7 linked regions of the Homo sapiens genome follow. The protein of the gene in region 1 interacts with the protein of each later gene in a pairwise test. Each region holds a gene or a part of one and is shown in the gene's direction. Other genes may lie near its edges. The genes, in order: UBQLN1, ZNF343, NGLY1, VPS54, TRIM23, ZNF829 and GLYR1.

The links.
Region 2: the proteins of UBQLN1 (region 1) and ZNF343 interact in binary tests that used the Homo sapiens proteins (3 or more experiments, as listed by UniProt).
Region 3: the proteins of UBQLN1 (region 1) and NGLY1 interact in binary tests that used the Homo sapiens proteins (3 or more experiments, as listed by UniProt).
Region 4: the proteins of UBQLN1 (region 1) and VPS54 interact in binary tests that used the Homo sapiens proteins (3 or more experiments, as listed by UniProt).
Region 5: the proteins of UBQLN1 (region 1) and TRIM23 interact in binary tests that used the Homo sapiens proteins (3 or more experiments, as listed by UniProt).
Region 6: the proteins of UBQLN1 (region 1) and ZNF829 interact in binary tests that used the Homo sapiens proteins (3 or more experiments, as listed by UniProt).
Region 7: the proteins of UBQLN1 (region 1) and GLYR1 interact in binary tests that used the Homo sapiens proteins (3 or more experiments, as listed by UniProt).

What each region holds. Positions count from the first base shown.
Region 1 is NC_000009.12:83,666,459-83,669,958, reverse strand, and holds part of UBQLN1 (ubiquilin-1), read left to right. Parts: intron 1-631; coding exon 632-774; intron 775-1,327; coding exon of another isoform or gene 1,328-1,429; exon of another isoform or gene 1,430-2,451; intron 2,452-3,500. UniProt on the Homo sapiens protein: Plays an important role in the regulation of different protein degradation mechanisms and pathways including ubiquitin-proteasome system (UPS), autophagy and endoplasmic reticulum-associated protein degradation (ERAD) pathway.
Region 2 is NC_000020.11:2,498,916-2,502,415, reverse strand, and holds part of ZNF343 (zinc finger protein 343), read left to right. Parts: intron 1-1,673; 5' UTR 1,674-1,760; intron 1,761-3,500. UniProt on the Homo sapiens protein: May be involved in transcriptional regulation.
Region 3 is NC_000003.12:25,762,944-25,766,443, reverse strand, and holds part of NGLY1 (peptide-N(4)-(N-acetyl-beta-glucosaminyl)asparagine amidase), read left to right. Parts: intron 1-2,132; coding exon 2,133-2,378; intron 2,379-3,500. UniProt on the Homo sapiens protein: Specifically deglycosylates the denatured form of N-linked glycoproteins in the cytoplasm and assists their proteasome-mediated degradation. Cleaves the beta-aspartyl-glucosamine (GlcNAc) of the glycan and the amide side chain of Asn, converting Asn to Asp.
Region 4 is NC_000002.12:63,911,429-63,914,928, reverse strand, and holds part of VPS54 (vacuolar protein sorting-associated protein 54), read left to right. Parts: intron 1-641; coding exon 642-747; intron 748-1,003; exon of another isoform or gene 1,004-1,104; intron 1,105-1,618; coding exon 1,619-1,706; intron 1,707-2,267; coding exon 2,268-2,389; intron 2,390-2,503; coding exon 2,504-2,584; intron 2,585-3,500. UniProt on the Homo sapiens protein: Acts as a component of the GARP complex that is involved in retrograde transport from early and late endosomes to the trans-Golgi network (TGN).
Region 5 is NC_000005.10:65,610,834-65,614,333, reverse strand, and holds part of TRIM23 (E3 ubiquitin-protein ligase TRIM23), read left to right. Parts: intron 1-114; coding exon 115-236; intron 237-478; exon of another isoform or gene 479-607; intron 608-2,452; coding exon 2,453-2,731; intron 2,732-3,290; coding exon 3,291-3,473; intron 3,474-3,500.
Region 6 is NC_000019.10:36,909,792-36,913,291, reverse strand, and holds part of ZNF829 (zinc finger protein 829), read left to right. Parts: intron 1-3,500. UniProt on the Homo sapiens protein: May be involved in transcriptional regulation.
Region 7 is NC_000016.10:4,812,789-4,816,288, reverse strand, and holds part of GLYR1 (cytokine-like nuclear factor N-PAC), read left to right. Parts: intron 1-1,641; coding exon 1,642-1,752; intron 1,753-2,333; exon of another isoform or gene 2,334-2,450; coding exon 2,451-2,552; intron 2,553-3,500. UniProt on the Homo sapiens protein: Cytokine-like nuclear factor with chromatin gene reader activity involved in chromatin modification and regulation of gene expression. Acts as a nucleosome-destabilizing factor that is recruited to genes during transcriptional activation.

The sequences.
Region 1 (3,500 bases):
AACCTGAAGTATGAAGACGCTAGATAACTTGCCCAAGATCACATGGGTTAGATTAGATTTGAACCCACGTAATCAGGCTCCTGATACTGCTTGGAGTCACTGTGCTCTATGGTTTCAAATGTTAAATGTGCCTACCATTTTACTCAGTGAGTGGCAGTACACAGTGAAAATGGGTGGAGGCATTACATCTTTTGTTGCCTTGGGCATGAAGGCTTACTTCTTTCATAAGGGTGGGCAATATTAAGTGCCGAATATGATTCTAATTAATTCTTTGCAGTCTTGGAGGAAAAGTTGGCTCAGTCCTTTTCACTTTATGGAATTTTTCAGCAGTAATTTTGACCATACGTAATTTTTGCCTTAAGTTGACTTCAGAAGCTAGCTCTTCATTAGACAAGATTTTACTGTAAATGCAGAATGTTTAAACTCATCAGTCCTCTTTTCCTGGTATATGTTGGGCATGTACTTTTAGAGATGTTTTAGTTTTAAAGTTCTTTCGTAGTTCAGTTGATACATAATATGTATAATCATTTGTACTTGGTGAAATTAAACACAGTGCATATTATATTTTAAAGCTTTAACTTTTGTTTAAGTATTTTTCCTTAATATGTCTTTTTTAAAAACAAACTTTCAGCTAGTATGTTCAACACACCAGGAATGCAGAGCTTGTTGCAACAAATAACTGAAAACCCACAACTGATGCAAAACATGTTGTCTGCCCCCTACATGAGAAGCATGATGCAGTCACTAAGCCAGAATCCTGACCTTGCTGCACAGGTGAGTTTGTAATTGTATTGAAAAAGACTGTGCAGTGTGAATTAAAATAACCTAATCTTGTAATTGTGATTTTGGCACATTTGTGTTGTGTATGATATCTTAATACACTAGAAAAATAAGTAAACTGTGTCTCCAATTTTTTAGACCGTGTGTTTCTTTGCAGTAAATTAATACTTCATATGTAATTAAAACAACTTTATCTCTGCCATTCATTGACTAGAAAGAAGTGCAGGTTTAGTTTGTTTCTACATATGTTGAGTTAGGAGACAAGTACAGAGTTCTGGAATGCCCACTCTTTTGAAGATAAACTACTTAATGAAATGTAAATCTTGAAAGCAATTAAGAGCAATGTTAATACATTTGAAATACTTTTATTTAGTAGATCACTCAGATTATAATAGTCATGCTCAGAATGGCAGTTGTAAAATAGCATTTATTAAAGACGGGAATTTGTCAGAACAATGTTCTCCTTCTTTCAACTATTGATTCCCCTGCTGAAAATCGTATACAGGTCCCTTATTAATGTATTCCTTTTTCTAATTTGTTTCTAAAGAGACCACAGCTAAGAAAATTGGGGATCTTAATGCTGGCTGAACACTCAGGATCACTTGGGAAGCTTTATAGACAGTACCGATGGTTGGGGCCTCATCCTTAGAGATTTTGAGATAATTGCGTCCGATAACCCTTTCTCCCTCAAGTTGCCTAGGTACTATCTAGGTTCCATACCACAGGGCTTGAAAAACCACGGAGAATGTGAAATAAACCTTGATAATCTGTAGTTTATATTTGCTGTTCGTTAAAAATGGCTTCTGTAGTGTGTCAGGAATTTGGAAGACTTTATAGTTAATCTCATCCCTTAAATTTTAAAAGCTTTAAGTCAAATGAATGGTTTTTATTTTCTAAATTCTAAAACTATATTGATTCAGGTATCTTTGTGTATAATTCTCAGTAATAACTTATGCCCTCACCAAATTTGTGGAATTGGAAATAACAAATTTTAAGAAGAATTTTTGTGTCTGTGATTCTGTATATTGGAGGTACATTTTATGGAAGATTGATTTATGCATATGAAACTTATCAGACTGAGTTGTTAGTATTAAATGCTTCAATTTACCATAATAAGCCATTTTAAGTGTGTATTTGGCTAATACTGAATGTGCATCTTGCTTTTAAAATTTGACTTTAACAAGCACATGCGTAGCAATTTTGTAATAATCTTACTTTAGTAAAGTGACTTGAGCACTCACATACTATTTTTTTACTCTAAAACAAAATGTTGCTAGTACTAGATTGGCATGTCTTTTATTACAGATAATTTAGAAACTTTTACAATGTTCTTGTTATCTGCAGATTAAAATTTGTGGTTTTTCTATTCTTTTGATTTTTAAATATTTAAAAAGACTCTTGAGTGTAAAAACTTGTGGTATAAGCACTCAGGTAAGTTATAAGAAGTATCTAATAAGATGATTATCTGTGAAAGGATACGTTTAAGATGACATGCTTTTTTAAGATGAAATGAAGTGAATTCCAAAAGATATGTGTGATAACCTCGTTAATATGTTGATGATAAGTATTTGGAACCAATAAAGAAGCAGGTTTGTTGACCTTAAGCCTGTATGAGTTTACTTACTGTGAACTTACTGGTCACTTTGAAATAAATACTGTATGTTCCTGAAAGGTTGTCTGACATCTGCTTTTGTTATTGTATTGAAATTAACTAAAAGATCACTTTGCAAGAATTGGGGCGAATTTTCTCTACCAGCATTTACATTGCTCTTAAATACGGTTAACTTCTTGAGGGCAAGGATCATTTCCTCCCCAGACTTTGGATAGATAAATAGGCTATCAGTAAATCCTTGTTAGTTGACTTTTTACTCCGCCTGGGGAAAATGATATAAAATGTGTCTTTTGAAGCTACAAGAATTTATTAGCTCTGGTTATGCTCCTTGTGTATTTTAATCTTATTTTCAGGTATATGACATCATACTAATAATGATCCTGATTTTTAAATTCTTAACGTTTATTTGAAGTTTAGGAGATGCCACTTTTCTCATCTCTGGTAGTAGTGAGGTGAAATCCAGATGCTAATCTTGGTGTTCTCAAATGGATTTACATCTTTTAGGTCTTAAATCATTTTAATACTTTTCCCAGAGGACTGTTGGTGCTAGGCCTGACTGATTTTCACCTAGCAGCTCCATTTCTCTGGCAAGTTGGTTGCTGTTTTGCGGTGTTATTTTTTTGGACCTAATATTAGCTGTTTTGTAGTAGGCAGGTAGATGTAGTGGTCCTTTTCAGATCTAGATTTTCTCTGTGCCTGCCACTTGTGTGTTGAGGTTTCTAAGCAAGCCATGTTACATAGTTCATGTATTGATGTTTATGTTTATTCTGCCAGTGTAGTAGAAAATATATCTTCATGAATGCCAGTTACTCCCATTTTTCTTTCAATGGCATATATTCACGTTTGTTCAAGGAAAAGCCTAAGAAAATGATTGCTTTTATTTTTTAGGATATTGCATGTCATTATCATAACCACCATTCTCATTGAGAGAGAATATGCCTCATTTTTTTGTTTTTGTTCTTCTGGAGATCCCTCTTGTGGACAGTATCTTCCCTTTTCCTTTTTTTATTTATGTTCTACCTTCCTCCCTTTTAAGTGCCAGCTGAGGCACTTGGGGGAAGATAGAATAAAACAAGGTACATTACTTGTTTCAGATATTTCCAGTTAA
Region 2 (3,500 bases), on another chromosome or scaffold:
GGGGAAGTTCTCCTGGATAATATCCTGCAGAGTGTTTTCCAACTTGGTTCCATTCTCCCCATCACTTTCAGATACACCAATCAGACGTAGATTTGGTCTTTTCACATAGTCCCATATTTCTTGGAGGCTTTGTTTGTTTCTTTTTATTCTTTTTTCTCTAACTTCTCTTCTTGCTTCATTTCATTCATTTGATCTTCCATCACTGATACCCTTTCTTCCAGTTGATCAAGTCGGCTACTGAGGCTTGTGCATTCGTCACGTAGTTCTCGTGCCATGGTTTTCAGCTCCATCAGGTCTTTTAAGGACTTCTCTGCATTGGTTATTCTAGTTAGGCATTCGTCTAATTTTTTTTCAAGGTTTTTAACTTCTTTGCCATGGGTTCGAACTTCCTCCTTTAGCTCAGAGTAGTTTGATCGTCTGAAGCCTTCTTCTCTCAACTTGTCAAAGTCATTCTCCATCCAGCTTTGTTCCGTTGCTAGTGAGGAGCTGCATTCCTTTGGAGGAGGAGAGGCACTCTGATTTTTAAGAGTTTCCAGTTTTTCTGCTCTGTTTTTTCCCCATCTTTGTGGTTTTATGTACCTTTGGTCTTTGATGATAGTGACATACAGATGGGGTTTTGGTGTGGATGTCCTTTCTGTTTGTTAGTTTTCTTTCTAACAGTCAGGACCTTCAGCTGCAGATCTGTTGGAGTTTGCTGGAGGTCCACTCCAAACCCTGTTTGACTGGGTATCAGCAGCGGAGGCTGCAGAACAGTGGATATTGGTGAACAGCAAATGTTGCTGCCTGATCGTTCCTCTGGAAGTTTTGTCTCAGAGGAGTACCCGTCCATGTGAGGTGTCAGTCTGCCCCTACTGGGGGGTGCCTCCCAGTTAGGCTACTCAGGGGTCAGGGACCCACCTGAGGAGGCAGTCTGTCCATTCTCAGATCTCCAGCTGCGTGCTGGGAGAACCAATACTCTCTTCAAAGCTGTCAGACAGGGACATTTAAGTCTGCAGAGGATTCTGCTGCCTTTTGTTTGGCAATGCCCTGCCCCCAGAGGTGGAGTCTACAGAGGCAGGCAGGCAGGCCTCCTTGAGCTGCAGTGGGCTTCACCCAGTTCGAGCTTCCTGGACGCTTTGTTTACCTACTCAAGCCTCAGCAATGGTGGGTGCCCCTCCCCCAGCCTCGCTGCCGCCTTGCAGTTTGATCTCAGACTGCTGTGCTAGCAATGAGCGAGGGTCCATGGGCGTAGGACCCACTGAGCCAGGCGCGGGATATAATCTCTTGGTGTGCCGTTTGCTAAGACCATTGGAAAAGCGCAGTATTAGGGTGGGAGTGACCCAATTTTCCAGGTGCCCTCTCTCACCCCTTTCTTTGACTAGGAAAGGAATTCCCTGACCCCTTGCACTTCCCGGGTGAGGCAGTGCCTCACCCTGCTTCGGCTAACACTCGGTGCTCTGCACCCACTGTCCTGCACCCACTTTCTGACACTCCCCAGTGAGATAAACCCGGTACCTCAGTTGGAAATGCAGAAAACACCTGTCTTCCGCGTCGCTCGCGCTCGGAGCTGTAGACTGGAGCTGTTCCTATTCGGCCATCTTGGCTCGTCTCATTTTAAACTTGGGGATTTCTAGCCTCCATATCTGGGTGGTAGGAGACAATCCTGAATCTCACACTGCCTGTTTCATCCTCAGGTCCACCTTCTCCAATCCCTGCCTGCTGGGAGAGGACGATCTCTTGAGAAAGGAAAGACTTCTGTGCTCCCGAGAACTTCCTATCAGGTAGGTACCACTTACCTTTCACATTCCCATAGCGTCTTTTCTGCTCGAAACCATGGCTGTATTTCCTTTGCCCGTCTGACATCTTGTACCCTGAAGTGTTCCAATTGAGGCTCAAGGCCTTGCTTGTTTTTCTACAATACTGGGGTGATTTTAAGGGCAAGGATCTCCACAGGGAATATTACCCCAGACTGGTACTCTCATTCAGGTTATCACCGTCCTTGCCCCAGCCATATTTCATCTTGGCTGCTGGATTCCCAGGGATTTGTCAGCTACTGTGAAATAAAAAATGATGGTAATTAGCATTTATTGGGCCATTGTTCTGTGCCAGGCAACTGGGTTTATAGTCTCCACAATATTTTAAACTCTCAACAATTTGAAAGTTAGGAATCAAAACTCTGAATTGATAGAAGAAGAAGTGGCATGTTAAGAGGTTAAGAAATTTACTTGTGTAATATGACCGGGTTGGGTAGAATTAGGATTTAGAGCTTCCTCAGTTATCAACATTCTATAATCCCTGTTTCATTGAGCCCCCCACCTCCTCATTTTCTTGTTTTTGCTGCTGGAGTATTTGGAAGGAAATCCCAGACATCACATAATTTTACCTATAAATACTATCCTATGCATTTCCAACAGAGAAGGACTATTTGTTAAAAATGTAACCATAATATTACCACATTCAACAAAATCGACAGTAATTCCTTAATGTCTTAACTCTAGATTGTTTTAAAATCTGCCCATTTCTTCTACAAAATTGCTATTGCTTAGTTCAAACTGTACACACTTAACAATTCAGGTAAGAACTATAAGAGGGAGAAGTATCTGGAATTCAGCAAGGCCAATTCTCCCACTCCCTTTTCTCTTTACCTGTTGATGATTTCTGTTAATGACCGTGTCTCCATCCCTGGTCACCAGCCGGAGCTCTGAGTCTTTCTTGCCTCCTTGTTCTTCCTGAAATTCTCATCCTTCTAATTAGTGATGGAGTCCTCTCAATTCTACCTTGGAATACCCCTTTATTATTTTCCCCTCATCTCACTGTTGTGCTACCCAAATTTTCATCTTTTCTCCACATTCTAGTTCACCTTCCACCCTGCCTTTTAAGTTGCTCCTCTGAAGGAAAAATAAGGATCATGCCACTCACCTACTCAAGAGGGCCATTTCTTTTTCTTTTTTTTTTTTTTTTTTTTTTTTTTTGAGACGGAGTCTCGCTCTGTCGCCCAGGCTGGAGTGCAGTGGCGGGATCTCGGCTCACTGCAAGCTCCGCCTCCCAGGTTCACGCCATTCTCCTGCCTCAGCCTCCCAAGTAGCTGGGACTACAGGTGCCCGCCACTACGCCCGGCTAATTTTTTGTATTTTTAGTAGAGACGGGGTTTCACCGTTTTAGCCGGGATGGTCTCGATCTCCTGACCTCGTGATCCGCCCACCTCGGCCTCCCAAAGTGCTGGGATTACAGGCGTGAGCCACCGCGCCCGGAAGAGGGCCATTTCTTATTACCTACCTCCAACTCTGTCCAAACTCAATAATTAGAGTGTGAGGCCACATGCGGTGGCTCACGCCTGTAATCCCAGCACTTTGGGAGGCTGAAGTGATGGATCACTTGAACTCAGCCTGGACAACATGACAAAACCCCGTCTCTACTAAAAATAGAAAAATTATCTGGGCGTGGTGCTGCACACCTGTGGTCCCAGCTACTCAGGAGGCTGAGATGGGAGGATGGCTTGAGCCTGGAAAGTGGAGGTTGCA
Region 3 (3,500 bases), on another chromosome or scaffold:
AATCCCTGCTCTGCCAGTTGTTCTGTGGCTTCAAGCAGGTTAACTTCCCTGAGCCTTTGTATTTTCATGTGAGTATTGGCCGGGAATGGTGGCTCACGCCTATAATCCCAGCTTTTTGGGAGGCTGTGGTGGGCGGATCACCTGAAGTCAGGAGTTTGAGACCAGCCTGACCAACGTGGTGAAATCCTGTCTCTACTAAAAAATACAAAAATTACCCAGGTGTGGTGGCGCATGCCTGTAATCCCAGCTACTTGGGAGACTGAGGCAGGAGAATTGCTTGAACCTGGGAGGTGGAGGTTGCAGTGAGCCGAGATCACACCACTGCACTCCAGACTGGGCAACAAGAGCAAAACTCTGTCTCCAAAAAAAAAAAAAGTATTAATCTAATACCTACTTTTCAGGGTAGTTGTATTACTTGAGATGATGTATTTAAAACGCCCAGCATTTTGCTTTGGGAGGCTGAGGTGGGAGGATCATTTGAGGTTAGGAGTTTGAGACCAGCCTGGGCAAAAGAGTGAGACCCCTGTCTCTCCAAAAAATAAAAATCATCCAGGTGTGGTGGCATGCACCTGTAGTCCTAGCTGCTGGGAGGCTGAGGATGGAAGATCGCTTGAGCCCAAGAGTTTGAGGTTATAGCTTTGATCACTCCACTGCACTCCAGCCTGGGTGACAGAGGGAGACCCTGCCTCAGAGAAAAAAATGCCTAGCACAGTACTTAGAACACACAAAGACAATACATTGTAGTTGTCTTTTTTATAGCAATTATGAATCATACGTGGAGCTTGCTGGTCTAATCCAGCTTTTTAAAAAGGATTCAGATGGAATTGACTTTCATGTCATTGAGTAATGTCTTGTTCAGTTGATTCCTGTAGGTCTGCCATCACCAGGGAAATACAGTAATATTGTCGATTTTGGAGTTTAATTTAAATGCTCATGATCTGCAGGTCTGTGTACTACAGACTGTTGCAACTTTTTTTTTTTTTTTTTTTTGAGACTGAGTCCTGCTCTGTCACCTAGGCTGGAGTGCAGTGGCACGATCTCAGCTCACCTCTGCCTCCCAGGTTCAAGCAATTCTCCTGCCTCAGCCTCCCAAGTAGCTGGGATTACAGGCACCCGCCACCATGCCCAGCTTATTTTTGTATTTTTGGTAGAGACAGGGTTTTGCCATGTTGACCAGGCTGGTCTCGAACCCCTGACCTCAGGTAATCTGCCCATGTGAGCCTCCCAAAGTGCTGGGATTACAGGCGTGAGCCACCATGCCCAGCTGCAACTTTTTATCTTGTTTGCAGTTGGAGAAATTACTGTTTTTAACATTGTTTCTTTTCAATACCTGGAAATTTGATCAAATACATTGTCATTTCATTTCACCTTTTTTCTTGTTTTGAGTAATTTACTGTTTTACATTATAGAATTTGTTGTAGCATTTTATTTTAAAGCATTCTTAGCATATTTATAGGTATTCTTTAAATGAGTCACTACTGAAATACATGATTTTTATTTCTTTTGTTTTGTTCGGATTACCTTCCTATTACTGTTAACCATCCATAGTTTTGGATTGACTATCAGGGTGTACTTTTCGTTATCGTGGAAAAATTAGTTGACCCCATACACAGGCTTCTAATCATGTAGCTATTCTTTAAAGACTCAGATTAACAAGATTCAAAGGTTGTTAGATAACTTCTTGTTGGTTTTATGTGACCCTGGATTCTTTTGTGTGGCTGTATCTCTACTGTCATTATTATTTCATAGGGAATTTCATAGAGAATAGTAGTATCATATACTATTGCAGAGAGGATAGGAATATGCATTTTTGCAACCCTTATGAGGCCTTCTGACTTATTGTTTCTAGAAGATCAAATATTTTTTCCTGAAAGTCCTTTGAACCACATTAAATAGGCTAAGGATTAAATGCCAAAAAGGAGATAATTTTTTTTTTAATTTTCTGGTTTATGTTTAGGCATTATTTACCTTAGGCTGTATTTAAAAAGAACCATAATGGTAAGAAAACAGTATGATTTTAGAAACATGCATTCTATATTATTGGTTTCATTATACATTTCTGTGTGTGTGTGCACAAAAGAATGACTGCATAAAGCAAAGGTTCACATTTTTTTTAATTTTATAAATTCCAGGGAGAAACACATCTCATCTTTCCTAAAAAAGCTTCAGTGGAGCAGCTGCAAAAAATTCGTGACCTGATTGCCATAGAGAGAAGTAGCAGACTGGATGGCTCAAATAAGAGCCACAAAGTAAAGTCATCTCAGCAACCTGCAGCCAGTACCCAGCTTCCTACAACACCATCTTCAAATCCCAGTGGGTTAAACCAGCACACAAGGAACCGTCAAGGGCAGTCATCAGATCCACCATCTGCTTCAACGGTAATGTTAGAATTAAACCTTCTTTAACTGTTTCTTTCAAAGTGTTGAAACAGCAAAAGCTTTGGAATGTGTTATGATTTATTCCTGAATTTATGCCCCATATTTTGTTCTTAGTTCTTATAACTCTAAAACATCCAAATTTCTTCAGCTCTTTAAAAAATTGTCAGATTTCCTCTACTGCATTAATACTTCTGATCTAAATTGTACCTGCTGCCTTTCACTGTGGGGGTTATTTCCAACAGCACAACCATTATCAATACCTTAATTCAATAAAAAAGCTTCTTTAGGTTTAAGGTAATTAAGAATGCATTAATTTAATGATAGTGGATGCTAGCAAATTAGTGAAATTTTATTATTAATATACACCATATATACTTGTGAAGAACTAAAGTCAAACTTACAGGCATTCTTGATAAACTGAAATGATTCCATTTGATAGGAAATTATCCTGTTTACAAAAATCTCTTTTGACCAAGGTCCTTACATATTCTTCTCCTAAGTTTTTACTGTCAGAAAAATTCTTGTGATATTTCTGTAAGTCTAACAAGCACCTCAATGGATTTTTATGCCCCTCCCTGAGATCATGTGCATTCCATTTTGAATACCTTAGGTCTTCATCAGTTTTGCAGTTAAGGTTGGTACAGTTACAGAAGCTCACTTAACATCTTTCTTGGTTTTTAACACCTTTTCTTAGGAGTTTTCCAATTACAGTGTTAGAATATATCTTTTAAGATTTCCTACTTTATCTTTTTAATTGCAGTATTATAGTTTAAAATGCACATAGTTAACCAATCTGCAAAAAAGCTTGCAAACATTTTATTTTACAAAATATCTCTTTCCTGGGCTAAGTAGTATTTTGTTAGTGTCCTGGCTCAGGAAAGCCATTCACATTTTCTTAATCTTGTTTAAACTTCTTTTCTTTTGTTTTGTTTTTTTCTTTTTTTGAGACAGAGTCTCATTCTGTCCAGGCTGTAGTACAGTGGCAAAATCTTGGCTCACTGCAACCTCTGCCTCCCAGGTTGAAGTGATTCTCGTGCCTCAGCCTCCTGAGTTTCTGGAAATAAAGGCATGCACCATCTCTCCTGGCTAATTTTTGTTTTTTCTTCTTTTTGAGACGGAGTT
Region 4 (3,500 bases), on another chromosome or scaffold:
CTCCCGACCTCCAGTGATCTGCCTGCCTTGACCTCCCAAAGTGCTGGGATTACAGGTGTGAGCCACCGCGCCCAGCCAGAGAACCTTTTGTGACCTACCAATAAAATTCTTAGGAGACATGTTTTCCTTAGAAGCCATTATAGATTTTTTTTTTTTCCATCTCACTAAGAAAATCTGGACTAGGTTTTCTTCATCAATTCATTAGTTATGATGGAGGACCTACTATGTTGGTAATCAGAAACACTGGATAGGCTTTTTGTCAGTGTTTCTGAATTGGCTAATGAATGCAATACCTGTCTTACTGAAGCGACTCCCTTACTTAATAAGAATGCCATACAGAGAGTATTATGCCTGTTGTACAGAATTTAAGGAGCCACTCATTCTCAGTGTTGTGCAAGCTGATCCTGCAATTGCACAGAGTAAGAGCCTCTTTAAATTTTGCATTCTAGACACCTCTCTTGTCTTGTGTTAGTCAAGAACCTGCTGTACTAGTAGGTAAAATGCATACTTTAACATAGTTACCAAGGTCATTATATTCTCAGAGATCCTTTGTGCCATTAAGTAATTTGATTTTTATATGCCAAATCCTTTTGATTTTTCTTGTTTTGATTTCCTATTGGGCCATTTTTCTTTTCTTGTAGAACCGTATTGCTGTTAATAAGAATTATCCTTGAATATTGCCAGTGTGTGGATAACATCCCATCTGTTACTACTGACATGCTTACTCGTCTGTCAGATTTATTGAAGGTATGTATGACTTCACTCCATTATGGAAAAATTTTTCGAGGAATTAATACATTAGGGTGTGACTAATCTTAACTCAAAGACATTTCAAGGTCAAATTAACTTTAAGACATTAGTTTTATAACATTTGATTGTGGTTGAATCACAACATGTTATTGGAAACAGGCTGCCTGCTTCCTTCTTACTCCACAGTTAGTGATCCTCATTCACCCATAGAGTTGTTAATGACATTGGAGACAGGAGATGATTTGTTCGTTAGGTGCTGAACATGACTGAGGCCACTTAGGTCAAAAAACCTGGACTGGCTTCAAATGTGCATGGAAGGAATTCACTGAACTTTACAAAATTCATCTCACTAAGGTTAGAGATTTTTCTTGCATCATTCTTTCAGAACCATTGATATAAAATGAAAATGTGATGATTTTATTCAGCCATTTCATATTGAGATATTTTAAACTACCAGTACGGAGGAAATGCTTTATTATTTTTTTCAAACCTCTAATCTGTTAATTATGTTCTGACTTGAGTTGTCATGTTTTAGCCAAGACAGATTTTTATAACTTTTGAAAATAGGACTTCCCAACAAGAATGACTGAAACCGAATTTGTTTTGTACATGCAAATTAAAGATTAATTTCTGCGAACTGATTTTTAGAATTTTTCAACTTTTTTCTTATCAGTAAATATTATCATTTAGAATCTCCCCTTCTCATTTCTTTTTCATTAAATAAATAGATACTAATTGCTTCTACTAGATAATTCATTTGGCCATTGAATGAGAGGAAAGGGGAATGTATTTTTATAATAGCACATTGCCAGGATATAAAGAACAGTTTTTAGTAAATTTTGGGGTTTTTTTCTCCTTCTTTTGTTAGTACTTCAATTCAAGAAGTTGCCAGTTAGTTCTTGGAGCTGGTGCACTGCAAGTTGTTGGACTAAAAACGATAACTACAAAAAATTTGGGTATGGATTCTTGCGTTTAATTCACTTGCTGAAGTGTTAACAGTGATGTCACTGTTCTCATCATGTTTTTTTATACCTCATGTTTTCATGGCTCTAACCAAAGTGGCATTACTCTAAAAATAAATGCTACTTACTCTTTTATGTATACTCATCACTGAAAAAAACTAACCATGGGGAAAAGGTTACGATGCATTTCCCCTCCAAGTATAAGTTACTTGGAAGTTACACCACTCTAGAAAATATTAAGATATAATGTGTATAAAGTATTTGGGGGTGAAAGCTATCTGAATGTCATAAGAGAATCAGTTGTCTTGTTATTGTGATACTGATAATACTCACAACTTGAGTCCTTTGTGAAAGCAGCATGTTCATTACATTATTCAGTATCAAATTATTAGACAAAATGAAATATGTTGCCTTCTGCCATAGGGCTCTTCGTTTATGAAATAAACTGGTTCTTTATAAGTGATGTTTTTTATTTGATTTGATTTGTAATTAAAATCAACTAATACCTTTTTTTTTTTTATTTCTCCATTATATATCTACTCCCTGGATCTTCAGCTCTTTCTTCACGATGTTTGCAGTTAATTGTGCACTACATTCCTGTGATCCGGGCTCATTTTGAAGCTCGACTACCACCTAAGCAATATAGCATGCTTAGGCATTTTGATCATATCACTAAGGTACTTTTTCATATATTTTCTATTGGCGTTTCATAAGTTTAGATCCTTAATTGTTAAGTATTTTAAAAATGTGTCCCAGGGACTTAAAAATACAATTATCATTTCTCATTGCAGGACTACCATGATCACATAGCTGAAATATCAGCTAAGCTTGTAGCGATAATGGATAGCTTATTTGACAAGCTGTTATCTAAGGTAATGATTTATAGAAATTATTAGACTTTGTTCAAAGACATTATGATTTTCTATTTTATAAGGAGTACTTTATAAATTAAGATGTGAAAAGATAATCTAAACTTTCATAGGATATTTACCAATTAGTAGAATTTTAAATTTTTTTTCAGGAAAATGTGACCATGTGCTGTGACCAAGACCCCCCATAGTGGTCTAACCTGCAGTTATCTAACAAATTATTCAGGGTTTAGAAAACAACTCAACAAAATTTTCGGATTTCCAAAACAGTTGATATTCTAAGGGGCTGGCAGGAGTAGGAGAGATGATTCTAAGGATGGTAGAAATCCTATGCAGAAGTATTTTTATGTTAATTCATTTCAACATTCATTTCTTGTTTGTTTTTCATTCCCAATATGTCATTAAATGAAGCAGTGTTCCCCAAAGAATTCGCAGTTATACTGGGAGAGTATCTTCAGAAAAATATCATTTAGTCAGCCCCAATCACGCTTGATCTATCTTTCACTGTTTACTTTCCCTAAGTTTTTCAATTCACGTCTTAGTGGGAAAGCCAAAATTTCGTAACTTGAAAGTCTGAAAGTTTACTCAGTGTATACTGTCTGTCCAAGATCATATTTGGAATAACCTTAATAGCAAAGAACTTTGATTTGCTTTTTATCCTACTTGCATCCTTCAGATTCCGAAATGGCAGGAACAGCAGGTACATAAGAATCAAAAGGGCAAGATAAAGTGGTGTCCATTCACTCACACACAAGACTACCCAAACACATATTCTATTAGCCTTCAGAATAATGATATCACAAGTCATCTAAAAATCCCCACTGTTCAATCATGAGAGAATGAGAGTAAAATAGATAAATAGCATCTTATTAATAATATTATTATGAAAGCGGCTTTTACTTCCCAGATTCCTGGAAAG
Region 5 (3,500 bases), on another chromosome or scaffold:
TAAAAATTTAGACATTAACTACTGAACTATATTAGAAATTACTTTTGAGGTATGGGTAAAATGATTAATAGTCCATTTTGTTAGATTTAGTTTTTGTTTTTATATTTATTCTAGGTGATTCAGGTGTCTGGGGATTGAAAAAAAATTTTGCTTTATTGGAGCTTTTGGAACGACTGCAGAATGGGCCTATTGGTCAGTATGGAGCTGCAGAAGAATCCATTGGGATATCTGGAGAGGTATTGATCATACTTGGTGAAATATTTGTTACGAGCATGAATTTTTCTTTTAATAGATGCCATTATTAGCACAATATTACTTCATTTATTTCAGCAGGTAAATTTCTAGAAACACAACTTTTCATTACATTACAGTTCTGAAGGCCAACACTATTCCCAAGAGAAAAAACTAGAATTATTTGAAAATCCTATGCCTAAACTATGCTTTATGTGTGAACTTTTTTTTCCTTATCATAATTCAGTTCTACCAAGAATAAAGTGAAAAGAGGAAGAAGATTATGGAATAGTAAGAAAGATATGTAAGCAACAGTAGAGAAGAGGATGCAAAAGTAGTCAACAGTAAAACTCAATGAGAGAAAGAAAAACTCGATGTAAGAGGCCATTTAATACAGAGGGGAAAATGCCTTAAAGATAGCAGTAACTTCTGAGGGAATTGTTACTGTTATAGCTTCAAGAAAAGGTTAAACTTTGTATAGATGTACTGTCTTTATCCATACAGGTAGATGTCTAGTAAATATCAGAATCCATGAACACTGGATTTTAATAATGTAAAAGTATATTTTTAGCACTTATGTGTTTGCATAGCTGCACATATGTACTATAGGACATGGCTTTCGTAGGCTGTTATGGGTAAAAATATATTTGGAGTAAATATCAGTTAATGATTTTGGTGATCAACTTGCAAACCACATATTTTGTATGAAGGAAAAAAAATGTCGGATTGCTTTCACTTCTCTTTCATTAGATGATGATTTCTTTATACTAAAGTGAATCAGTGAAATGAATTTCAAACTGCAACACTCTGTTTTCTAAAAGTTATGCAGTTCTTTCTGTGCTAAATCTTTAATCTTTATTTCAAAAGACATTACTGTTAGCTAATGTTGACATTATAGTTTATAATTTATTTATTTGTCAGGTCTGGGAAACAGAAGACCTGAATTTTTATGGTACATGTGTTTATTTCTCATAATTGCAAACAAAACTCTTCCACTTTGGATTCATTTTTTATTTAATGTGATAAAGAATGACACCATTGATGTATTTAAACATTTTTATTTTTGAAAAAATTTATACTAAATTTCTCCCCTTCCAATTATGGCCTTTTAATATTGAGTAAAAGTGTTCAAAACATTCTTGATTATCTGACATGTAATTTTTTATCTACTTGAAATAAAAGTAATTATTTCATAATTAGTTATTTTTTGTAATTCCTGAAAACTAGAAATAATATTTACATGCTTACATATAGGTTTTATTTATTTGTTTATTGTTATTTTTTAAGACAGAGTCTCACTCTGTCACCCTTGCTGGAGTGCAGTGGCGTGATCTCAGTTCCCTGCAGCCTCCACTTCCTGGCTTCAAGTGATTCTCGTGCCTCAGCTACCTGAGTAGCTGGTATTAGAGGCATGTACCACCACACCTGACTAATTTTTGGATGTTTAGTAGAGATGGACTTTCCCCATGTTGGCCAGGCTGGTCTCTTACTCCTGGCCTCAAGTGATCACCTGCCTCAGCCTTCTTAAAGTGCTGGGATTACAGATGTTAGCCACTGAGCCTGGCCTATTTTTTTTTTTATTTGCTTAAATCAGTGGTTTTCTGCCGTGATTGTGCAATAGACTCACCTGTGGAGCTATTAAAATAACATGGCGTATAATTAGAAAAATATATACAAGTCTAGGGTTCATCCACAACCTGTTGAAATAAGAATTTCTCTTCCAGACAGCTATGTTTTTAAAAGCTTACAGCTAATTCTGATGCATACTCCTACATTTTCTAAATAGCATTTGTGCTTCTGTCCTTCCTATACATCATCATGACAACTAATATTTAAAGCTATGGGGATGTATTTAATATCAGATTTTTGTAGTTTTACAGAAAGACTTTTGACTTCTCTATGGTTTAGTTTCTTTTGTGTAAAGTGAGGGGATTTGGTGGAAGAGATCTTTGCACCGAATATGAATCTATGAGAATAGTTCTATTTTTGGCTTCAAATTCATAACATATATTGGCCAGTTAATCTTGGAAATAGCTTCTTACCCCTAGAAATGAATGCTTCTCAGATGAGTATTGAATGACCTTTGTTCTTAATGACCAATATATTTTCATATGTAAATATTGTTCAGTTAAGCAAAAAGGATTATGGATTCTATATTTAAAAATTCGTCATGTTATACTGATTGGGTTCAATTTTAAGGCATTAATTTTTTGTTTATCAGAGCATCATTCGTTGTGATGAAGATGAAGCTCACCTTGCCTCTGTATATTGCACTGTGTGTGCAACTCATTTGTGCTCTGAGTGTTCTCAAGTTACTCATTCTACAAAGACATTAGCAAAGCACAGGCGAGTTCCTCTAGCTGATAAACCTCATGAGAAAACTATGTGCTCTCAGCACCAGGTGCATGCCATTGAGTTTGTTTGCTTGGAAGAAGGTTGTCAAACTAGCCCACTCATGTGCTGTGTCTGCAAAGAATATGGAAAACACCAGGGTCACAAGGTATGAATTTAATTATTAATCAGTTGGATCACTGTAGCTACTTTACCAGCTCAGTATTCGTTTTCACTGACCTGGTTCTTTATTCTGAAAGTAGGGATTGAAGAAGAGTTAAGTGATGAGTGATTGGGTTTGGTAGCATGAAAATAAATGAGAGATTTAATTTCTGAATGTTATAAAAAAAAAAAAACTTCAAAGAGGCATCATGATTCTTCACAAAAAAATAGCTTTCGAGCAGGAAACAAACATTCTGTTTGCTTGCATGTTTTCATAATGCACCAGATTGTTTTGACAATATTTATGTCTGTTAGCTCTTACTTAGGATATGATTTTAGAGATAGTCTCTTGGTTTTTTGTTTAGCAATAAACGGACTTCCAAATTTTAAATTACTTCTTTGCAGTACAGTTTTCTTATAAAGGAGTGAAAGTAAATTAGTATTTTTCTGTGTCATAAAAGTCACTTGTGGCTGATGCTTTTTTGTATTAATAGGGATTTAAATAGTTTTTTATATTATTAGTCAATACTATGAGTTCTTTTCTCTAATTATGGTACATTTTATAGCATTCAGTATTGGAACCAGAAGCTAATCAGATCCGAGCATCAATTTTAGATATGGCTCACTGCATACGGACCTTCACAGAGGAAATCTCAGATTATTCCAGAAAATTAGTTGGAATTGTGCAGCACATTGAAGGAGGAGAACAAATCGTGGAAGATGGAATTGGAATGGCTCACACAGAACATGTATGGATTTTTTTTCTTCTTCACTTT
Region 6 (3,500 bases), on another chromosome or scaffold:
GGGCCTACTCTCAATTTTTAAATTGTATGTGTTTGGTACAGATGCAGAGAAAATCAGGATAAGAATAAGTCTAACTAAGTATTTTGTGTAAGGCCTTTCTATCTGAATTTCTTTTAAAGAGGACTGAGTCTTCCCTCTCCTGTGCCAAAGCCCAAATAGAATATCTGCTTCCCCTCTTGCATCAGTCTCTAGTTACACTTCTCATTTCTATAGAGAAGATTGTTGCCCAGTATTAACGGGAATAACTAGGGACATGTAGTATACTGTAGTAGACAATAAATTTTTATTTTTTTTGGGACAGAGTTTCACTCTTGTTTCCCAGGCTGGAGCACAATGGCATGATCTCGGCTCACCACAACCTCCACCTCCTGGGTTCAAGCGATTCTCCTGCCTCAGCCTCCCGAGTAGCTGGGATTACAGGCATGCGCCACTACGCCCGGCTAATTTTTGTATTTTTAGTAGAGACGGTGTTTCTCCATGCTGGTCAGGCTGGTCTTGAACTCCCAACCTCAGGTGATCTGCCCATCTCGGCCTCCCAAAGTGCTGGGATTACAGGCATGAGCCACTGTGCCCGGGGGACAATAAATTTTAAAAGAAATAAAATTTGTTTTCAGAACTTAATCTAATGTTTAATCAGGAAATATTTGAAACATCAAAATATTTGAAAATTAGAAGTAAAACAAGGATATACCACATTACCAATGTTATTTAACATTGTTTTATAGATATTAACCAAAACACTTACATAAGAAAAAAAATTAGGTTAAAAATTACAAAAGAGGGCATAAGATTATCGCTTTATAGATGATGTGACTGTGTAACTGAAAAACCAAATCTGCTTGTGATCAGCATTTTGAAATAAGCAGGATTCCATATGAAGCAAGCAAAAGAAAAACTTTTTCCTCATAATTTCTACTCTCAACCCTCTCTGTGGGTTAATTTTTTTGTTGCCCTGGATAAGAACTGGTATAGACTATAATTTTTATCACTCTTTGATGTCCTTTGATTGTTTTCAGTCAAAATCTAGTCTCATTTTACTAATTACAACCTCTAGTTCACTGTAATAATATGTGAGTTTCATTTAAAGCCTCTTCTCTGAGCTGAGAATTGCTTCAAGCTTGCAAAGTATGAAAAGGGACATAATTAAGCTTCTTGATTTCCTCGCCCTGAGCTTCTATTTCTCCTGCCTAAGTCAGTCTCTGGATCCTATGAGATTAGAGCAGGGGTAGGGAAGAGGAGGTAAGGAAAAGAAAAGTCTTTCTTGACTTGTTTTGGTGTTGATCTCTTTTGCCTTGATGGATGTTCAACACTCCTTTGTTAGGAGACACTATTAAGAGTCTCTCAGAGAAGCCCCTGCTGGAAACCTCTAATTGCATTTCCTGGGATATGCACAGCATGTCTTCTTGAAATGGCTACTTATGACATCTGTCATACACTTCTGCATTCTGTGATCCATTCCTTTGTTGAGGTCACTTTGTCCCTTTATTGGGTCCACATCTAGTCCAAAGAGGGAAATAGGTACTAATCTTTGTGCCCCCTAAGCTCCAGAGAATACAGCAAAAATTATTCCAAAGTATCTCATCATTCCACTTTGGACCCTGGAGTCTAAAGGGGCCCCCTTGCTTGTCCTAAGGTGAGGGAGAAGTACCCTCATTTCTCCTATCAATTGGGAATGTGTGTCCTTTTATAAACAAAATTTTTGGGACACTAACTGAGTGTCCTATAGTTTAACTGAATTCTGACACTACCCAGAGTTAACATAGACCCCATTGCTTAAGAGGCTCAGTCCCAGCTGGTCATGCCTATAATCCCAGGACTTTGGGAGGCCGAGATGGGAGGATCACTTGAGGTCAGGAGTTTGAGAACAGCCTGGACAACATGGTGAACCCACATCTCTACTAAAAATACAAAAATTAGCTGGATGTGGTGGTGTGTGCCTGTGGTCCCAGCTACTCAGGAGGCTGAGGCAGAAGCATTGCTTAAACCTGGGAGGCAGAGGTTGCAGGGAGCTGAGATCGCACCACTGCACTCCAGCCTGGGTGATGGAGTAGACTCAGTCTCAAAGAAAAAAAAAAAAGACTCAGTCCCACAAGACTGTACCTGCTTCAGACACCAGCCACAAGTCTAAGGCACTGCACTTCTGCCTAGCCAGCCAAAAATTTAGAGGTTCCCGTAACTCTCCTTCAGGTTCAATAATTCATTAGAATAACATATAGAACTCAGGAAAGCACTATACTTATGATGATAGTTTTACTTTTTTGTTGGTTTCTTTGTTTGTTGGTTTTGAGATGGCGTTTCACTCTGTTGTCCAGGCTGGAGTGCAACGGCACAATCTCGGCTCACTGCAACCTCCGCCTCCCGGGTTCAAGCAATTCTCCTGCCTTGGCCTTCTGAGTAGCTGGGATTACAGGCATGCGCCACGACACCTGGCTATTTTTTGTATTTTTAGTAAAGATGGGGTTTCTCCATGTTGGCTAGGCTGGTCACAAACTCCTGACCTCAGGTGATCCACCCCCCTTGGCTTCCCAAAGTGCTGGAATTACAGGCATGAGCTACCGCACCCGGCCTGATTATAGTTTTATTACAAAGGATACAACTAAGGAACAGCAAAATGGAAGAGATGCATAGGGCAAGGTATGGGGAAGGGCCTGCATATCTGGAAAAGGTCTTAAAAGTATTTTTGCCTAAGAAAATGTCTGAAATGAAAGATTCATTCAGTAGTATTTATATTGTGGAAATTTCTGCTACCATAAGGGTATAAAAGTTGAATTTGTTTATGTTAATAGGGAATAATTATGACAGTCTTATAAGAATTGTAATTTCCAAGAAACTTAAAGTATGCTGTTGTCTAAGTGATACTTTAAATTTATGTTTAACCCATTTCGCATTTTAAAAATTCAAGAAATGGGCCAGGCGTGGTGGCTCACGCCTGTCATCCCAGCACTTTGGGAGGCTGAGGCAGGTGGATCACTTGAGGTCAGGAGTTTGAGACCAGCCTGACCAGCATGGTGAAACCCTGTCTCTACTAAAAATACAAAAATTAGCTGGGTGTGGTGACCGGCGCCTGTAATCCCAGCTACTCGGGAGGCTGAAGGAGGAGAATCGCTTGAACCCGGGAGGTGGAGGTTGCAGTGAGCCGAGATTGTGCCACTGCACTCCAACCTGGGCAACAAGAGCGAAACTCCGTCTCAAAAAAAAAAAAAATTTTTCAAGAAATGTTAAAAGACATGAAAAATGGCAGGGCATTGTCCCACTAACCCAATCCTACTCCCCTTAGGTGGCTACTCTTTTTGCTGTTTCTCTTAGCATTTTTCCTATATTTCTAATTAATATTCCTATATTGCTATTTTTTGATACATATTTTCCAGTGATTTCTAGGCAGGTAACTATGGATTGAGATTTCCCATACCACAGTCTTCATTTTTTGTCCATGCAATAGAATTATATCACAATTTTTCTTTTCTTTCTTTCTTTTTTTTTTTTTTGAGACAGAGTCTCAC
Region 7 (3,500 bases), on another chromosome or scaffold:
TACTATAGTCCCAGCTACTTGGGAGGCTGAGGCCAGAAGATCTCTTGGGCCCAGGAGGTAGAGGCTGCAGTGAGCTGTGATCATACCACTGCATTCCCACCTAGGCAGCAGCAAGACCCTGTCTCAGAAAAGAAAAAGGACAAAAAAATGGCTCACAAAAGAGGAAACAAAGGCATAAAAAATATTCGGTAATCAGGAGTAATTAAAATATATCAAACAAGGCCGGGTGCGGTGGCTCATGCCTATAATCCCAGCACTTTGGAAGGCAGAGACTGGGGGATAACGAGGTCAGGAGATCGAGACCTCGGTGAAACCCCGTCTCTACTAAAAATACGAAAAATTAGCCGGGCACAGTGGCGGGCGCCTGTAGTCCCAGCTACTCGGGAGGCTGAGGCAGGAGAATGGCGTGAACCTGGGAGGCAGAGCTTGCAGTGAGCTGAGATCGTGCCACTGCACTCCATCCTGGGCGACAGCGAGACTCTGTCTCAAAAAAAAAAAATGAAACAGTTGCCTTTTTTGACTGGTTAAATGATCAGGTAGGAAGAATTTTACATGTATTTATGGGCACTTATTTGTAGTTTTTAAATTACATACTTGGTACTGGCATAATAGGAGAGCTTGCTGGTGATCTTTATGAAGTGACATAGTCTCATTGGGAAGTCATCTGTCTACATTTGTTGAGAGCCTTAAAACTTTTAGAACCTGTTTTATTCTATTTGTGGAGACCTGAATTTAAAACATAGAGAAGTTTTGTACGTAAAGATGTTTGGTGATGTGATTTTACAATTGAAAGTGGGCTAAGTGTCAAACTACAGGTCAGCCATTAGGTAAATCACAGTATATCTCTCAGTGAAGTTTTCCATAGTCAACCACTATAAACCATAATTATGCCAGAATTATGAAAGACAACAATATAGATAAATGTGAATCATAAACAACATTAAAAGTCTGATAGAAAATAGTAGGCCCATCCAGCCTGGGCAACATGGTGAAACCCTGTCTCTACAGAAAAAAAAAAAAATCACACATGGGGCATGCACCTATAGTCCCAGCTATTCAGGAGGCTGAGGCAGGAGGATCACTTGAGTCCAGGAGGTTGAGGCTGCAGTGAGCCATGATTGCACCACTGTGCTCCAGCCTGGGTGACAGAGCAAAACCTTGTCTCAAAAAAAAAAAGCCAAAATGGTAGTGTTTTTAGGCACTTCCAGAAGTCTTATTAACCTGACAACAGTGTTGAGAAACAACCCAAAAACGAATGGCCACCAGGTGGAAGGCTTCCAGCGACATCCCCACATTCCCAGCAGAGTGTTGATAGCTCAGGGCCACAGCCAGGACAGCACAGCGGGGGCTGGGGAGAGGTGCTACTGTTCATACCCCATTCTTGAAACAGCATACCTTCAGCAGACACTTGTGAAGCAGTTCATCATCCTAGGCACTCGTCATGCAAAAACTGAAGATGGCCAGTAAAAGGCCCCGTGCACTTCCCCAAAAGTTGGGCTCCTATCTCCATGACCCAGGCTCCCGGCCTCAGCCTCCTGCCTTGGTAGGCCGCCAGGAGGCCTGGTCAGCAATTCTCTGGCCTGGCTGGCATGTTTGTTGTGCACTGCCTGCAGCTCACGTTAGGATCTGTGACTTTTGCAGTGTGATTTGTTCATCCAGGAGGGGGCCCGTCTGGGAAGAACCCCCGCTGAAGTCGTCTCAACCTGCGACATCACTTTCGCCTGCGTGTCGGATCCCAAGGCGGCCAAGGACGTAAGGACCCCCTCCCTCCCCTCAGCAACTCCGGGTCACAGCCAGGATTGCTGGCTGGCCTCTTCCCCTCCTCCCCTGCACACCAAGTGAGTGTCCACATGTGGGGGGCTGAATTTCCCATCAGGGGCCATCTCCCATTGTGAAGGGTGTTTGCATTAATTGAATACAGACTTCCTTTAATTCAGATCAAAGAATGAACACTACTAGGGCCCTTGAAGTCTGTGCTGAAATGTGTCTTGAACAGGCTTCATGTGTTCTTGTTGAACTAGAAGCTTTGGAACTGAATGTGCCTTTGGTCCAGGTGCCAAGCTTCTATGTTTAGCTGTCACTGTATTTGTATATTTTAGAAGTTCAAGTGTGGTAGTCATCTTATTAAACTGGTGACTAGCCTAATCCAAGTAAATCCAAAGAAGTCCCCAAAGTAAATGCTGAGGTTTATTCTTTTAAATGGGGTTTGTTTTTTTTTTTTTTTAAATAAAAAGAAATGCACACACTCACATAGATTCTTTTTAAAGATAAATGGGAGCATGCGGGAAGTACTTTTCTATCCCTTGCTTATTTCATTGTTCTTCCCTTTTCAGCTGATAGAAATCAGGAAATGAGCCAAAACAGCAGCAGGATTCTGATCTGAGGTCTGTAGGGCTCCTGAGCATCTGCCCGGGAGCCTGGGCTATTGCTTCTCCCTTGTGTCCCCACAGCTGGTGCTGGGCCCCAGTGGTGTGCTGCAAGGGATCCGCCCTGGGAAGTGCTACGTGGACATGTCAACAGTGGACGCTGACACCGTCACTGAGCTGGCCCAGGTAGCAGCCTTCCTTGGGCTGGCTCTCCAGCATCTTTTCTATCAGAGCCCAAGACCCAGGCTTACAAGAGTGGGCAGTTAAGTTACTCTAGAGCCAAAGCCAGAGAGGGAAGAGGAGAGGCGAGTAGCCTTGGGACTAGCCTATCCCGTGCTCCACCTTCAAACCGCAGCTAGTCTGAACAGCCATGGGCAGTCGCTGCATGGCTGGGATGGGCATCAAGTCCTGGAGCTGCCAGCCTTATGATGAGAAGCAACCCAGGCCGCCCGCCTGGCATTGGGGTTTGAGCAGCTGTCTGCATTTGACACTGGCAAAGCATCCCTCCTCCCCGAGCATCTGGCCCAAATAAGGGAGTGGGGACTTTGGGACCCACATATGTTCTGAGGGGAGGGCAGCATCCACAGGGGAGGTGTGTGTTCAGCCGAGCCATTGACATGGTCACATCTGGTTCTAGTTGTTGGTCTCTAAGAAATTCCAGTCCGGGCGCGGTGGCTCACGCCTGTAATCCCAGCACTTTGGGAGGCCGAGGTGGGCGGATCACGAGGTCAGGAGATCGAGACCATCCTGGCTAACACGGTGAAACCCCATCTCTACTAAAAATACAAAAAAATTAGCCGGACGCGGTGGCGGGCACCTGTAGTCCCAGCTACTTGGGAGGCTGAGGCAGGAGAGCGGCATGAACCCAGGAGGCGGAGCTTGCAGTGAGCTGTGATCGTGCCACTGCACTCCAGCCTGGGCAACAGAGCAAGACTCCGTCTCAAAAAAAAAAAAAAAAATTAGCCAGGCATGGTGGCGGTTGCCTGTAGTCCCAGCTACTGAGGAGGCTGATGCAGGAGAATGGCATGAACCCGGGAGGCAGAGTTTGCAGTGAGCTGAGATTGCGCCACTGCACTCCAGCCTGGGCAACAGAGCAAGACTCTGTCTCAAAAAAACAAAACAAAAAAATTCCGG